2 linked regions of the Homo sapiens genome follow. The protein of the gene in region 1 binds, or shares a complex with, the protein of each later gene. Each region holds a gene or a part of one and is shown on either strand. Other genes may lie near its edges.

What was found. The genes of interacting proteins can lie anywhere in the genome.
Region 2: the proteins of CLSPN (region 1) and CHEK1 are in contact, whole or in part, in a crystal structure (PDB 7AKO), measured with the Homo sapiens proteins. Residues at the interface, in NP_071394.2 of Homo sapiens: Glu938, Leu940, Leu941, Leu943, Cys944, Ser945, Gly946; in NP_001107593.1 of Homo sapiens: Lys53, Lys54, Cys57, Met61, Arg129, Thr153, Val154, Phe155, Arg156, Tyr157, Asn158, Arg160, Glu161, Arg162.

What each region holds. Positions count from the first base shown.
Region 1 is NC_000001.11:35,766,967-35,774,021, forward strand, and holds the start of CLSPN (claspin), read right to left. Parts: upstream 3,013-7,055; 5' UTR 2,905-3,012; coding exon 2,881-2,904; intron 1-2,880.
Region 2 is NC_000011.10:125,620,562-125,628,185, forward strand, and holds the start of CHEK1 (serine/threonine-protein kinase Chk1), read left to right. Parts: upstream 1-4,601; 5' UTR 4,602-5,199; coding exon of another isoform or gene 5,200-5,451; exon of another isoform or gene 5,452-6,011; coding exon of another isoform or gene 6,012-6,014; exon of another isoform or gene 6,015-6,081; intron 6,082-6,187; coding exon of another isoform or gene 6,188-6,207; coding exon 6,208-6,272; intron 6,273-7,045; coding exon 7,046-7,269; intron 7,270-7,624. Other genes in the region: dolichyl-diphosphooligosaccharide--protein glycosyltransferase subunit STT3A, read left to right, coding at 211-249. UniProt on the Homo sapiens protein: Serine/threonine-protein kinase which is required for checkpoint-mediated cell cycle arrest and activation of DNA repair in response to the presence of DNA damage or unreplicated DNA.

The DNA of each region.
Region 1 (7,055 bases):
GAACTTTTGACCTCAGGTGATCCGCCTGCCTCAGCCTCCCAAAATGCTGGAATTACAAGCGTAAGCCACCACAACCGGCCCTGTATATTTCTATATACATAAATGTATGCTTTATATATGTATGTATATCTTAAAATACATACATATATGCATATATACACATATATAATATAAACAATTACAAAATGCCAACTTCGGATGATGATTCAAAAAACTAAAAATGTAAATAATTATGCTAAAGTGGCATATAAAAATAAATGAAATATCTCTGAGTCAAAGAAATCTGAACACTGACTAGATACTTCTTAGGTGTGGTAATAATATCGTAGTATCTATTTTTGGAAAGCTCTTGTTTGTTAGATATGCACACTAAAATCTTTGTGGTTCAAATAATATGATATCTTGGATTTTCTTCCAAATAATCCTGTGAGAGGAAAAATGGGTAGCTGTATGAATAAAACAAGATTGGCCATGACTTGAAAATACAGGTTGAACATCTCTAACCTGAAAATCTGAAATGCTCCCAATTCCAAAATATTTGAGCACTGACATGATGCCACTAGATGAAAATTCCACACCTGACCTCATATGATGAGCTGCAGTAAAACCTTTGCTTCATGCACGAAATTATTTTAAAATGCTGTATAAAATTACCTTCAGACTATGTGTGTAAGGTATATATGAAATATAACTGAATTTCATGTTTAGACTTGGGTCCCTCCCCCAAGATATCTCATTATGTGTATGCGAATATTCCAAAATCCAAAATGAATCTGAAATTCAAAACGCTTCTGGTCCCAAGCATTTCAGACGAGAGATATTCAAACTGTAGTTGAAGTAAGGTGATGGGTTCATTATACCATCCTTTCTACGGTTGTATAGGTTTGAAAATTTCTAAATAAGACAGTTTAAAAAGTCGCAAATAAAAACCTAAGGAGGAGGGGTGTGTTAGGTGACTTGATCAGTTAGTGACCTTAAAGCTAACCCTAGATGCCAAGTCTACCTCCTTAGTGTTCTCAGGGCTCTGAATCAACTTATTAATAAAGGGAGAAATATGAACATCAGTAATGTAACAGGGCACAAGGCCTCAGCTGAGTGGTTTCTCAAAAAATTATTAAATTGGTCAGGCATGGTGGCTCACGCCTGTAATCCCAGCACTTTGGGAGGCCGAGGTGGGTGGATCACAAGGTCAGGAGTTCGAGACTAGCCTGGCCAATACAGTAAAACCCCGTATCTACTAAAAATACAAAAATTAGCTGGGCGTGGTGGTGTGTGCCTGTAGTCCCAGCTGCTCAGGAGGCTGGGGCAGGAGAATCGCTTGAATCCAGGAGACAGAAGTTGCAGTGAGCCGAGATTGTGCCACTGCACTCCAGTCTGGGCAACAGAGCGAGACTCCGTCTCAAAAAAAAAAAAATTATTAAATTGATTTGAATGCAAGGTACAAATTTTTTTTTTTTTTGATACAGTGTCTCACTCTGTCACCTAGGCTGGAGTGCAGTGGCAGGATCATGGCTCACTGCAGCCTTGACCTCCCAGGCCCAAAGGATTCTCTCACCTCAGCCACCCGAGTAGCTGGGACCGAGTAGCTGGGACCACAGGCGACGCCCGGCTAATTTTTTTTTTTTTGTAGAGGCGGGGTTTTGCCATGTTTTCTATGCAGGCTGGTTTCGAACTCTTGAGCTCAAGCAATCTGCCGGCCTTAGCCTCCCGAAGTGCTGGGATTGCTGAGAATTAATATGTATGCACTGATGATCCTCTCAACAATCCAAAGCAGTAAAACTATTACTTCTGTTTGTGAGTGTGGAAACCGAATTTAGGTAACCAGACAGCTCAAGGAATAGGGCTGCTTTGAATGACGATTATCTTCTAGGCAATTTGCAGCAACGTCAAAGGGCAGGGCCAGTAACAGGGTGGGGTGAGGTCTCAAAAAATTCAGTAATCAAAATGAATAACATTAATGCAATATTTTTTAAAAAATTAAATCAATAATCTACAGCTCATGAGGTAAATAATATGCCCGCTTTTGTAAATAAAGTTTATTGGAAACAGGGATGGAATTAGGGTGAGGTGATTGAGGCAAGGTCGTGCAAATGACTGGTCGGATCTCGTCTTTGTTTAAACGTCTGATATTTTGTTCAATATCAAATCATAAAAAGTTTTTGCATTAATTTTGGTTTTTTAAAAATATTGCATTAAAATATGAGTTTGATTGAGGGTTTTGGCGCCCCTTTAAATTTTGCTCCTAAGGCGGGAGTGCCTTGCCCGAATCCGGCCCAGAAAGGACACAGCTCTGGAAACATCTGTTTTCTATGCCCAATTTCGCCAGGGAGCTGCCAGCCACCAGCCAGGAGCCCCAGCGGTGACTTCCCCACTCGGGGCCCGGTCGGAAAACGCAAAGGGCCTGCGCGCGATGACCTCCAGGGCCCCTCCCAGGCCCAGTGTGGAACTCCCTAACACCCTCGCTCGCCCTCTCTCTGCGGAGAATCCCCCCGCACCGCTGCGGCCGGGTTCGGCTAGAGCCTCCCGGCTTTCAGAGCACCCTGAGGGGAGGAGCTTCCGCGACAGGAAACGCGCCAAAGGGGAGGGCTGGCGGCAGGAACCGGCTGAAGAGGGGCTGGGCTGCCGGCAGTGCGCGCCGCAGAGACCTGGAGCTCTCCGGCCACGGAGCCCGAAGCGCGGGAAGCCCGGCGGCGGGACGGGATGCCCGGTCGGAACCCATCCCGGCCGAGTCTCGAGGCCGCGGGAGCCGGCGCGGCGAACGCCGGGAGCCGCAGTCCTCCCGCCCGGGCGCCTCGGGTCAGCGGGGTCTACCCCGGCCCCACCTAACCTCTCGGTGCCCGGCCTTCTAAGCCCCCGTGGGGGGCGTGTGCATAAACTCACCTCAGAACCCACCTCGCCTGTCATGACTTCTGCCTCCCCTGCGCTCCACTAGGGACGGAGCTGTCTCTGATTCCCTCAGCCGGAGAGCAGCGGCTCCCGCCGTCTCCAGCCCAGCAGTGCTGTTCTTGCTTTCCCGCCCAGCCAGAGTGGAGGTCCCACCCAGATGGTTTGCACCAATCCAGAGGGGGCTTTCCAGCGAGTCCCCGCCCCCTTCCGACCCACCAATCACGCAGCGCCTCTGGCCGCCCAATCTCCTATTACCCAGGCTGAGTTGGCGGGTCGCAGCTGCTGGTAGCGGAGCCTGGGGGAGCTGGAGGTGCACGGGGGCGGGGCAGTCGGTACCAGGCGAGCCGTGGTCTTTGACCTTTGACACTTGCCAAAGCATCGAGTGCGATTGGAGGGGTGAGTCTTTCGGGGGGAAGTGAGCTGGGAAACGGTTCCTGGGCACCTGGGAGTGTCCTGTACCTGAACTTTTTAGAGGAATTCCAAGGTTCCCGTGGGGATTTTCTCCACTGACTTCATTTCTGGAGCAGCTAGATCCTGTGTGCCTCTTGTACATGACACTTACCACTGAATATATATATATATATATATATATATATATATATATATATATACACACACACACACATATGTACACACATATATACATACACATATATACACATACACATGTATGTGTATACACACACACTTTTTTTTTTTTTGAGATGGAGTCTCCCTCTGTTAGCCAGGATGAAATGCAGTGGCGCGATCTCGGCTCACTGCAACCTCCGCCTCCCGGGTTCAAGCGATTCTCGTGCCTCAGCCTCCTGAGTAGCTAGGATTACAGGCACCCGCCACCAACCCCTGGCTAATTTTTGTATTTTTAGTAGAGACGGGGTTTCACCATGTTGGCCAGGCTGGTCTCGAACTCCTGATCTCAAATGATCCTCGCCTCGGCCTCCCAAAGTGCTGGGAGGCCTCATACCCCTCACAGGCGTGAGCCACTGTGCCCGGCCCACTTTTATTTTTTAAAGAGGGCCGGGCTCCATGGCTCACGCTTGTAATCTCAACGCTTTGGGAGGCCGAGGTGGGAGGATGGCTTGAGTCCAGGAGTTTGAGGTTAGAGTGAGTTATGATCGCACCACTGCACTTCAGCGTAGGCGATAGAGGGAGACCTTGTCTCTAAAGAAAAAAGTTTTGTGGGCTGCTCAGATACCAAAGAATATGGTTGGATAATCTTTATAATTCTCTGTAGAGTTAATTTGAGGATGTAGAAAGCACTCATCACTCCTAGAGGGCATTCTACCTTTAAACAAGGCTGGAAAAAGAATTGAAGCTCTGAAATCAGGTTTATCCCAGACACAGTTCTTTTTTTTTTTTTTTTTTTTTTGTTGAGACAGAGTCTCTCCCTGTCACCATGGCTGGGTGCAATGGCGTGATCTCGGCTCACTGCAACCTCCGCCTCCCGGGTTCAAGCGATTCTCCTGCCTCAGCCTCCTGAGTAGCTAGGATTATAGGCATGTGCCACCACGCTCAGATAATTTTTTGTAACTTTAGTAGAGACAAGATTTCACCATTTTGGCCAGGCTGATCTTGAACTCCTGACCTCGTGATCCGCCCGTCTCAGCCTCCCAAAGTGCTGGGATTACAGGTGTGAGTCACCGCACCTGGCCTATCCCAGACAATTCTAATCCCAGTTTTGCCACTGTGCTGGCCATTATTTTTTGCCTCTCCAGGTCAATTCTCTGTCCTTCCTTTACCCTGGTGTGTGTCAAGGCAAGGCTGACCTCTCTAGACTGTATTATCCCAGCTCCCTTGCCCTTCTGGTTGGGTCAGGCCCCTGTAAAGACACCTTATAAGGTTACTGTAAGGAGATGAGAGGCCACCAGGAAAGAAAGGTCAGAGTATTTATTGCTCACTTCACCCTCCATGGTCATATCCACTGCCAGTGTGGCCAGCTTGGCCCAGCTTGCCCAGGACTTTCCTAGTTTTAGCACTAAAAGTCCTGCATCCTGAGAACCTCCTCAGTCACAGGTATACCAAATGGTTGGTTCTTCACCCAATCCACTGGCCTCCTCTTCCAAGTTTCCACCTTTAGCTGGGTTCAGAAAAAAGCTCCCTCTCCACATCTTCATTTCTTTACTTCCCCACCATCTCTCAATCCACTTCTGTCCCCACCAACAAGAGCCCATCATCCATCCTCTTCTCTTTTTGTGTCTTGGTTTATCCACCTTTTCATCCATTTACTATTAATTTCTACATCAACGATTCCCAGGTATACATCTATGGCACTCCCCATCATATATGGAGGGCTAACGTTTATTGAAGCCTTACTCAGTGGCAGAAACAGTTGCAAGGATTTTATAAGTGTTATCTTATTTAATCTTCAGAGTAAACTTGTAATATTATTATCTCTTTCTTAGAAGATGAGGAAACCAGACTTTTAAAAGGCTAGAAACTGGTGGAGCCAATTTTCAGACTCTATGTGACTTCAGAGCTCATACCCCTCAGAAAGACCCTGCCTGAGCATCCTCTGTGTTCTGCCTCCTTATCCTATGCTGGTTTCCCTGATAACACTTTCCTTTGCCTGAAATTTTATTTATATCTATTTGTCTGTTGTTGCTCCAAGAGAACAGGCGTTTTGTTTTCTTGGCCTCTGTATCATTGCAACCTAGAATTGTCTTTCTTAAACTTGAGCATGCATCAGAATAATCTGAAAGGCTGGTAAAAACAGCTATTGTTGGGTCCTAGTGCCAAAGTTTCTGATTCAGTATGTCTGAAGTGGGGTCCAGAGATGTATACTTCTTTCTTTCCTTTTTTTCTTTTTCTCCCTGAGTGCAGTGGCATGATCACAGCTCACTGCAGCCTCAACCTCCCAGGCTCAAGCAACCCTTCCACCTCAGCCTCCCAAGTGGCTGGGACTACAGGTGTGCACCACCATGCCCAGCTAATTTTTTATTTTGTAGAGACGGGGTGTCACCATGTTGCCCAAGCTGGTCTCAAACTCCTGGACTCAAGCAACCTGCACATCTCGGCCTCGCAAAGTGCTGGGATTACGGGCATGAACCACCGTGCCCCACAGGAATGTATATTACTAACAAATTCCCTGGTGATGCTAGTGTTGCTGATCTGGAGACCACACTTTGAGAACAAAGGACTTAGAACATCCCAGGTTCAAGGTAGGAAAACTGATAAATATTTGTTGAACTAATTAATTCATTCACTTGACAACTTCTTGAGCTCCCTCTGAAAATGAATGAGTGAAATAATATTCCTTATATTAGTATTTTAAAATATCTTTGGGGAGCACCTTTTCACTCATCACAGAAGCTAAGAGAGAAAGCTCCAATTTGAACAATGGGTGGACATGGGTAAGCTAGGAAAGGAAAACCTTTCATTCAATTTTTATTGTGGTAAAACATATATAACATGAAATTTACCATCTTAACCATTTTAAAGTATGCAGTTCAGAAGTACATTCAAATTGTTATGTAACCAATCTACCAATCTTCAGAATTCTTTTCTTTTTCTCTTCTTTTTTTTTTTTGAAATGGAGTTTTGCTCTTGTTGCCTAGGCTGGAATGCAATGGTGCTATCTTGGCTCACTGCAACCTCTGCCTCCCGGGTTCAAGCAATTCTCCTGCCTCAGCCTCCCAAGTAGCTGGGATTACAGGCACCTGCCACCACGCCTGGCTACTTTTTTGTATGTATTCTTAGGAGAGACGGGGTTTCACCATGTTGGCCAGGCTAGTCTTGAACTCCTGACCTCAAGTGACCCATGCACCTCGGCCTCCCAAAGCGCTGGGATTACAGGTGTGACCCAACGGGCCTGGCCTAGAACTCCTTTCATCTTGCAAAACTGAAACTCTATGCCCATTAAGCAACAACTTCATACTCCTCCCATCCCCAGGAAACTTTTATTTTACACATTAACTTGTGCCAAGATAAAGTGAGTCTGTATTTAGAATTAGCAACCTGTATTCTCAATTTTGGTGAGTGGAACCATATCCACTCACCAGTTTAGAAACCTGTGAATCACCTTGACCTCTCTGTCCCTTCATTGTTGTAGTCATCCAACAATCCTTGTTTATCAAGTTGATAAATGGCAACAAAGGAAACATCTGGAGTGCTCACTTTACAGGGATTAGTCTGAACCTGTCCCATAGAGGGCTTCATAAACTTAGGTAACT
Region 2 (7,624 bases), on another chromosome or scaffold:
GTAGATCAGTAATATTGGTCCTCACAGAGGTATTCCAAAAGGCTAAGCAGAGAGAATCTAGTCTCTAGTCAGTGCTTGTGTATTCACAGCCCTAAACCAGGCTGCAGAACCCAACATAATCCTGCCCACTCTGGGTGAATCCATTTTAGTAGAAAATTTCTCCAAAGTTGATCTGATTGTAAATATTAAACTGACATCTTTATGTTGCAGGTAAAGGACCTGGATAATCGAGGCTTGTCAAGGACATAAATGTCACGTCCAGCTCTGATATGCTTCGCACTGAGCACATCACATTTAGGACGTTGAAGATTTTTTTTTTTTTTTTTTTTTAATATGCAGTTTGTAAGAACAAAACTGGATGGCATCAGAATTGTCTGGAAGTTTTGTCTTGGGCAGTATGGGCTGGGCCAAATGAAATGATTTTTATAATTCTAAACAGGTTACCAAATGAAATGTCATGGCTTTACTTTGGTCAATTAAAGGGGGGAATTTTTTTAAAAAATGTGCCTTATTTGTTTTGACTTATAACTGATTTGAGGGAGGCAAAAGCTATGCTAGGCTGCCAGAAGGACATAAGCAGACCTTGTCCATTCTCTTAGCTCCCTAAATTAGCCAAATAGAGACTTCTTTCTCAAATCAGGAAAACTATCAAAGACCAATTCAGATCCTACATTTACAGACAGTTTTGTCATAACCCTTTGCATTGCAGCACCTAGTACAATTCCTTGGAAACAGCGTGGCTCAATAAATTTTTATTGAATGAATAAATGTGGGACCAGAAGAGTGCTAGAAGAGTGCCTTTCTGGGCTACTATGTCTCTGTTCTCAATGTCTTTTATCCTTAGACGCTCTTTGACTTTATAAATCAGCAGTTTTGAAGACTCAAGACAAACAGTGAAATTATTGGTTTATCAATGGAGAGGAAGAAACTCTTCCAGCATTACATATAGAGCTTGATGGTCAGTAGGTGTTTTTGAATCAGCTTAAATATAATCATACATATCAATTTGAAATGGAGCTTTTCAGTACTCTCACTTATTCATGACACAGGAATGACCCTTTACTCAAAACTCTTGTGGTTGTTCAAAGGTGAGCTTCTTTTTCCCTTAGTCTTAGCCTATGTGTTGCTGTTGTATATTGTTACCAAGTTCAACTACCTAATTTTGAAGCTCTTTCCAAATAAGATACAAATTAAAAGGGGAAGCATTGCCAGTAACAGGTCCCTAGAGAGCAGTGCCAGCCTGCCTGCAAGAAAAGAGGAGAAACTTCTTAAAAAGTTTTAAGCCTGGGCAACATAAGGAGATTGTTTCTATGAAAAATAAAAATTAGCCAGGTATGGTGGTGTACACCTGTAGTCCCAGCTACTCGGGAAGATGAGATTGGAGGATCACTTGGGCCTGGGAGGTTGAGGCTACAGTGAACTGTGATTGTGCCACTGTACTCCAGTCTGGGCGACAGTGAAATCTTGTCTAAACAAAAACAATTTAACTGGGAAGCACAGTGGTCCTTGAGGACATTTAATATCAGGACAAAGAGCCTATGAATATATCACTGATGTATATAAACCCTAAGGCGTTAATAAAAGCTAACTGTTTAGTGTTATCCATTTAAGGGAACAGGAGGAATTGCATAACTTTTAGATTAGTCATAGTGGTGCTCCTAAGGGATATGCTGTTGTATATTTGTATAGCCAGGGCACTTAGCCTTCCAAACCAATTTATATACCATGTTCTTCAACTGTGGGTGAGATTTAGCCTCAAGATTTGATTTACTATATGTAAGTACATTACTTGATTTCTATAAAGAATCTTTAGTGGAAGAGGTTATTCTGAATTATTTATCAATATGATTAATACCAGTTAGAAATTATTAATGATCTTCCTTTATACTATACATAGGATAACTTTTAACTTGTCGCTACAGTTGTTGCTCTGAGGATCTTAATTTTGTTACTTTCTAGGCTACATGAAGCTATCTTTTTAAAAAGTGTACTCTTCATTTTCACTGTTATTGTGTACTTAGCATAAAAAACTCAAATCTAGGCCAGGTGCAGTGGCTCATGCCTGTAATCCCAGCACTTTGGGAGGCTGAAGCATGCGGATCACTTGAGCCCAGGAGTTCAAGACCAGCCTGGGCAACATGGCTAATGAACACTAAGCATAGTTTTGATGTCTTTCATATTAAAGACTTTCTCAAATTCTTGCTAGTCTGCTCCTCTTTAAGAGTGGGACCCTAGGCAGGGCGCAGTGGATCATGCCTGTAATCCCAGCACTTTGGGAGGCCGAGGCAGGCAGATCACTTGAGGCCAGGAGTTTGAGACCGGCCTGGCAACGTGGGAAAACTCTGTCTCTACTAAAAATACAAAAATTAGCTGGGTGTGGGGTACACACCCTGTAATCTCAGCTACTGGGGAGGCTGAGGCATGAGAATTGCCCAGGAGGTGGAGGTTGCAGTGAGCAGACATCATGCCACTGCACTCCAACCTGGGAGACAGAGCAAGACTGTCTCAAAAAAAAAAAAAAAAAAAAAAAAGAGTGGGACCCAAAAAAGCTGATTGAAAGGTCTGTTTGTAGGGGGTGTAGATGGGGATTAATAATGTGGGTTTCAATCTACTGTGATCTGGCTGGGCTGTTACATTGGGAAATCCATGATACTGATTTTTAGATTTTTATCTTTTGCATAGGTAAGATTCCCTTGAGAAGGCTTGCATATTCTCTTACTCAAGGATGTAAGCCAGGCAGTCAGCTTTCTGGGAGTAGAGTAGGGAAAGAAGTTGTAACAGGCTCAACCTTCAGTGGATAAAACTTAAACTTAATCCCTCCGTTTTCAGTAAGGTGCCCAAGCTTTTAACTGTGCCTAATGGTCTCCAGTTCACATACTGTGCATTTACCCTCTTAAATCTCGTACCAGCTTTGGGGAGGGACAGTTCCTTGGTTACATAGAAAGGGAAGGGATACGGGGATCTATTTGTTTTTTATGTAGCCTTTAAACCTACCCCTTTTAGCCCCATTTTTACCTCCACCTTCAGTTACCTGGTGTCACCAGTTCAACTTGAGCTTTTTCAGAGTTCTGTGATGTTAATTCTGCTTTCCATTGCTAGCTTTGGGATTCATCTTCATTACCTTTCATCTAAAGGCTTTCTGCTTTCCAAAATGTGTCTCATACTCTGTTCTTATGGGTTCTTTTAAATATTGGTATCCTTTACTATTAAAATATTTTAGTGGGCTTTCAGAAGAGAATAGAGGCTATTTCTATGTATTCTGTCTTTAACTGGTATTCTGCTGGAGTCTGTATATCTTTTTTTTTTTTTTTTTCAGGCTAAAAAGACTCCATCAGACACACAGGAAATTTGCAGGTCTTCCTCTTCGTATTCTTTGTTTTCAGCACACAGTGAGGAAACAAGAGAAAATGGGATAAATGATATAAAAACTTGCTTTTATTTTTATACCAGGCCCTGTGGCTCGCTTCTGTAATCCCAGTGACTTGGGATGCTGAGGTAGGAGGATCACTTGAGCTCAGGAGTTCCAGGCTGCAGTGAGCTAAGACTGCCCAATTGCACTCCAGCCTGGGTGACAGAGCAACACACCCTGTCTCCAAAAACAACAAACTGTAAAAAGATTACATGAAGCCTAATCTGTGATGTCATGATTCAAAACTATACACATAAGCATTTTAAGAGTTTTTTCCTTGATTTTTGTTCCTGACTTTGCTTCTTTAAAAGAAATGTGTGTTTTTGTTGTTGGTTGTTTGTTTTTGAGACGGAGTCTTGCTCTGTTGCCCAGGCTGGAGTGCAGTGGCACAATCTCTGCTCACTGCAGCCTCTGCCTCCTGGGTAGCTGGGATTACAGGCACTCGCCATCGTGCCCGGCTAATTTTTGTATTTTTAGTAGAGACGGGGGTTTCACCATGTTGGCCAGGCTGGTCTTGAACTGCTGACCTCAGGTGATCCATACGCCTCAGCTTCCCAAAGTGTTGGGATTACACGTGTGAGCCACCAGGCCCCGGCCTTGAGTAACATTTTATACTTGTTTCACTTTACTATTATCATAATAGCCAGTTATGCTTAGTGTTTGTATGTGGCCCAGTCTTAAGGACTAAGAAAATATATATGTATATATATAAAATATATACATATAAAAAAATATGTTTTTTTCCTACGGAATCATGCTGTTGCCCAGGCTGGAGTGCAGTAGTGCTCACTAACCTCTAACTCCTGGACTCAAACGATTGTTCTGCTTAGGCCTCCCAAGTAGCTAGGGCTACAGGGACACACCACCAAGCCCGACTAATTCCTAAATTTTTTTATTTGTAGAGATGGGGTCTCCCTATGTTCCCCAGGCTGGTCCTGAACTCCTGGCCTCAAGCCATTCTCCTGCCTCGCCTTCCCAAAGTGCTGGAATTACAGGCAGGAGCCACTGCGCCCGGCCAGTGCTGGAGAATGTAATGGAGATGATCCTGCCTATCCCTGAGTTCCAGTCTAGTTTACTGTCAGAGAATACTTATTTCCATTTTTCCTATTTTGTTCTTGAGTCTCTTTCCTCAGAATTTACTTTTCCACTTAAATGACGTACGCAGCTTTTAAATTTGCGTTGTAAGATTTATTTTGGCTCTCCCCGCCTGTTCTTTGCACATTAAAAATGAAAAAGTTTGTAGAACTAAGCTAAGCAGATGGTCTTCCTGCAAAAAGACCGGGCTGAAGTAAAGCATTGTTTTGGAGCTGGTTCACAGAAAAAAGGCAAAACTGGTTATCCTGACTTCAAGCTCCAACATAAACTGCTCGCTTTCTCCGGGAAACTTGCCCCGCCACACACACTTGACTGCGTGGCCAGTTCTTTCGAAGCCTCTCGCTCCCAACACGGAGTTCCTCCCATTTCTTCACAGTCGGCTCTCAGCAGCTGCTGCTGGTTTCTCGGCTCCAGCACCACGAGTACCGCACTCTGAGGTTTACAAAGCACTCTGCTTCACCGACTGTGATCCTCACAGTCCTGTCCGGTGGCCTCACGCAGGTGGCGGTGCAGCCTTTCAGGCCCAGAGCGGCCAGGAGCGAAGCCCGCAGCCCCGCCTGGAAGCGCAGCGCGGTCGGTCGCGCGCCCCTGAGGCTTGGAGGCCTGGGCTTCCCCCAGCAGCGCTCGAGCACCGCCCAGTCGAGCCTCACACCGGATGCCACTTCATATTTGGGCCCAGAGCTCAATTCGCGCCGATGCGGTCCGCCGTCCTTAAATCTCTTCAGCCAGGATCTCTCCCCGACTGCAAAGCAGCCCTGGGCGGGAGCGGCAACATCTCCACGTCACCCTTTTGGAGCCGCCGACATTCAGAGGGGCAGGACACGGGAACGCGCGCTGTCTTGCTTTACGGCGCGGGTGCGCGAGTTTGCGGCAGCGTGACGCCCTCAAGTTTTGGCGGGAAAAGCGCTGCATTTGGATTCCTGCAGTGGTGGGCAAAGGACAGTCCGGTGAGGAAGGGCGGCCGGTAGAGTAGGGAAGGTTTCTAAAGAAGGAGTTCGGGGTCTAGATTAGTGAGGGAGGGCATGGTGGGAGAAAGTTAGCATTGACTAGCGCAGGGGATTGGAGAGACTCCTGCGGAGGGGCGGTTTCGGAGGGTGGAGGAATGGTACCAGGAGGTTCCCGTTGTGGGGGCGGGGGCAGGAGGGACTAACCCGCTGCTAGCTAAGAACCCCAAGGAAGAGTCCCAGCCCTTCCTTTCGCCTCTGGGGGCAGTTTGGCCCCGCCCCGGCCTTTGGGACGGGTGGGGCTGTGGATGGGGATGGGAATTGGAATTGAGCAATTGGGAGGAGGCGCTGCCGCAGGCGTTTTCTGCCCCATACCGCTCCCTATATCCTCTTCCTCTCTTCCCCAGACCCCCACCTCTCCCTCCTCCTTCCCCAGTCGTTCGCCGGAAAGCATTTGTCTCCCACCTCTTCATAACAACAATTAATTTCCTCTGGGGCCTGAGGAGGGCAGAATTTCAACCTTCGGTGTGCTTGGGAGTGGCGATTGTGATTTACACGACAAAATGGTCAGGTTTAGAATAGTTGTTCGTGGTTGAAAGACTTGGATAAATGTGGATGAGATAGAAGGGGAAGGCAAGAGCTGTTAATTTTCGTGGGCAATCCTGGGGAGAGGCGGGGCTCAGTGGCTTCACTGGTGATCTTACACTCTACATCTTTTCTGGATTCCTGCCTTTTACAGCCGAGGTGCTCGGTGGAGTCATGGCAGTGCCCTTTGTGGAAGACTGGGACTTGGTGCAAACCCTGGGAGAAGGTGCCTATGGAGAGTGAGTTCTTTTAAGCTTGCCTTCGTTTTCTGAGTGCATATTCATTGTTTTGGAGTCTCACACTCTGGTGATTTAGAAAGTAGATGTTTGAGATCCAAGGGTTTTGGCAACTGAAGTTACACAGCCTTTTGCTAGGATTAAAAATTTTTTCCTTCCCTTTAAAAAAAAAAGTTTTCTTTGTAGAGAGCTGGAAGGGACACGAAGTTATTGTTTCCATGCCCACAAATTGCTTCTCAGGGTTTAAGCATTGCGGTTAATGAGCAAATGAGCAGACTCTGGAGATTGCCTGCCTGGTTTCAGATCCTTGCTCTATCACATACTGGTCATTGTTTTGTGATCTTAGGCAAGCTTCTTAATGTCATTGTGTACCTCTCCTTCACTACCTTTAGGGTGGCAATAATCGCATCTACCCCATAGGAGCTTAGGACAGTCAGTTACACAAGCACATATAGTATGGGATTAATGCTCTTAAAAGTATATGAGTAGAACATGTATATATGTGATGTGGCTTAGAATTATCTCAATCTATTTTATGAAGCGTTTATTAAATGACTTGTGTGACAGCATAATGACGTCTTTGGAGGGTTAGCTATTGTATTTCACATTTTAGAAAAGAGTAGTGTGTGTTGAGAACATAGCAGAAACCACTTCCTTGGTTTCTCCTTTGTGGAAAAAGTAATAGAGGTAAAATCGTTTTGGATGAGTCATGTTTAATCTTTGGAAGTTTTAGAAGAAATGGAATTCTGTAATGTTAAAACTCTTTTCCTTTTTAGAGTTCAACTTGCTGTGAATAGAGTAACTGAAGAAGCAGTCGCAGTGAAGATTGTAGATATGAAGCGTGCCGTAGACTGTCCAGAAAATATTAAGAAAGAGATCTGTATCAATAAAATGCTAAATCATGAAAATGTAGTAAAATTCTATGGTCACAGGAGAGAAGGCAATATCCAATATTTATTTCTGGAGTACTGTAGTGGAGGAGAGCTTTTTGACAGAATAGGTATGGAAGAAATTTAAGATAATTATTTTAAACAAGTTTTTAAATTTGTTTTTTAAATCTTGGGCATGCTATTTGGTCGTTGTCCTTTCAAAATTGCTCATGCAACTGTGAAATTGGAATACATTATCTTTAAAAAATTTTTCCACCTGGTGTTAATAACATAAAAGCATATATAGAGTCAATGAAAGAAAACTTCTTTCCCAAGTTATATAAGTGATTTTGATTTAAGATTGGTGTCTTACAGAATTTAAGAGTGACAAACAAGTTTTATGGTACATCATAAATGCAGTGTATCCTAAATGCAATGTATTGCCTACACAATTTTTTCTTTGTAGACATTCTAGTTACATGAAAT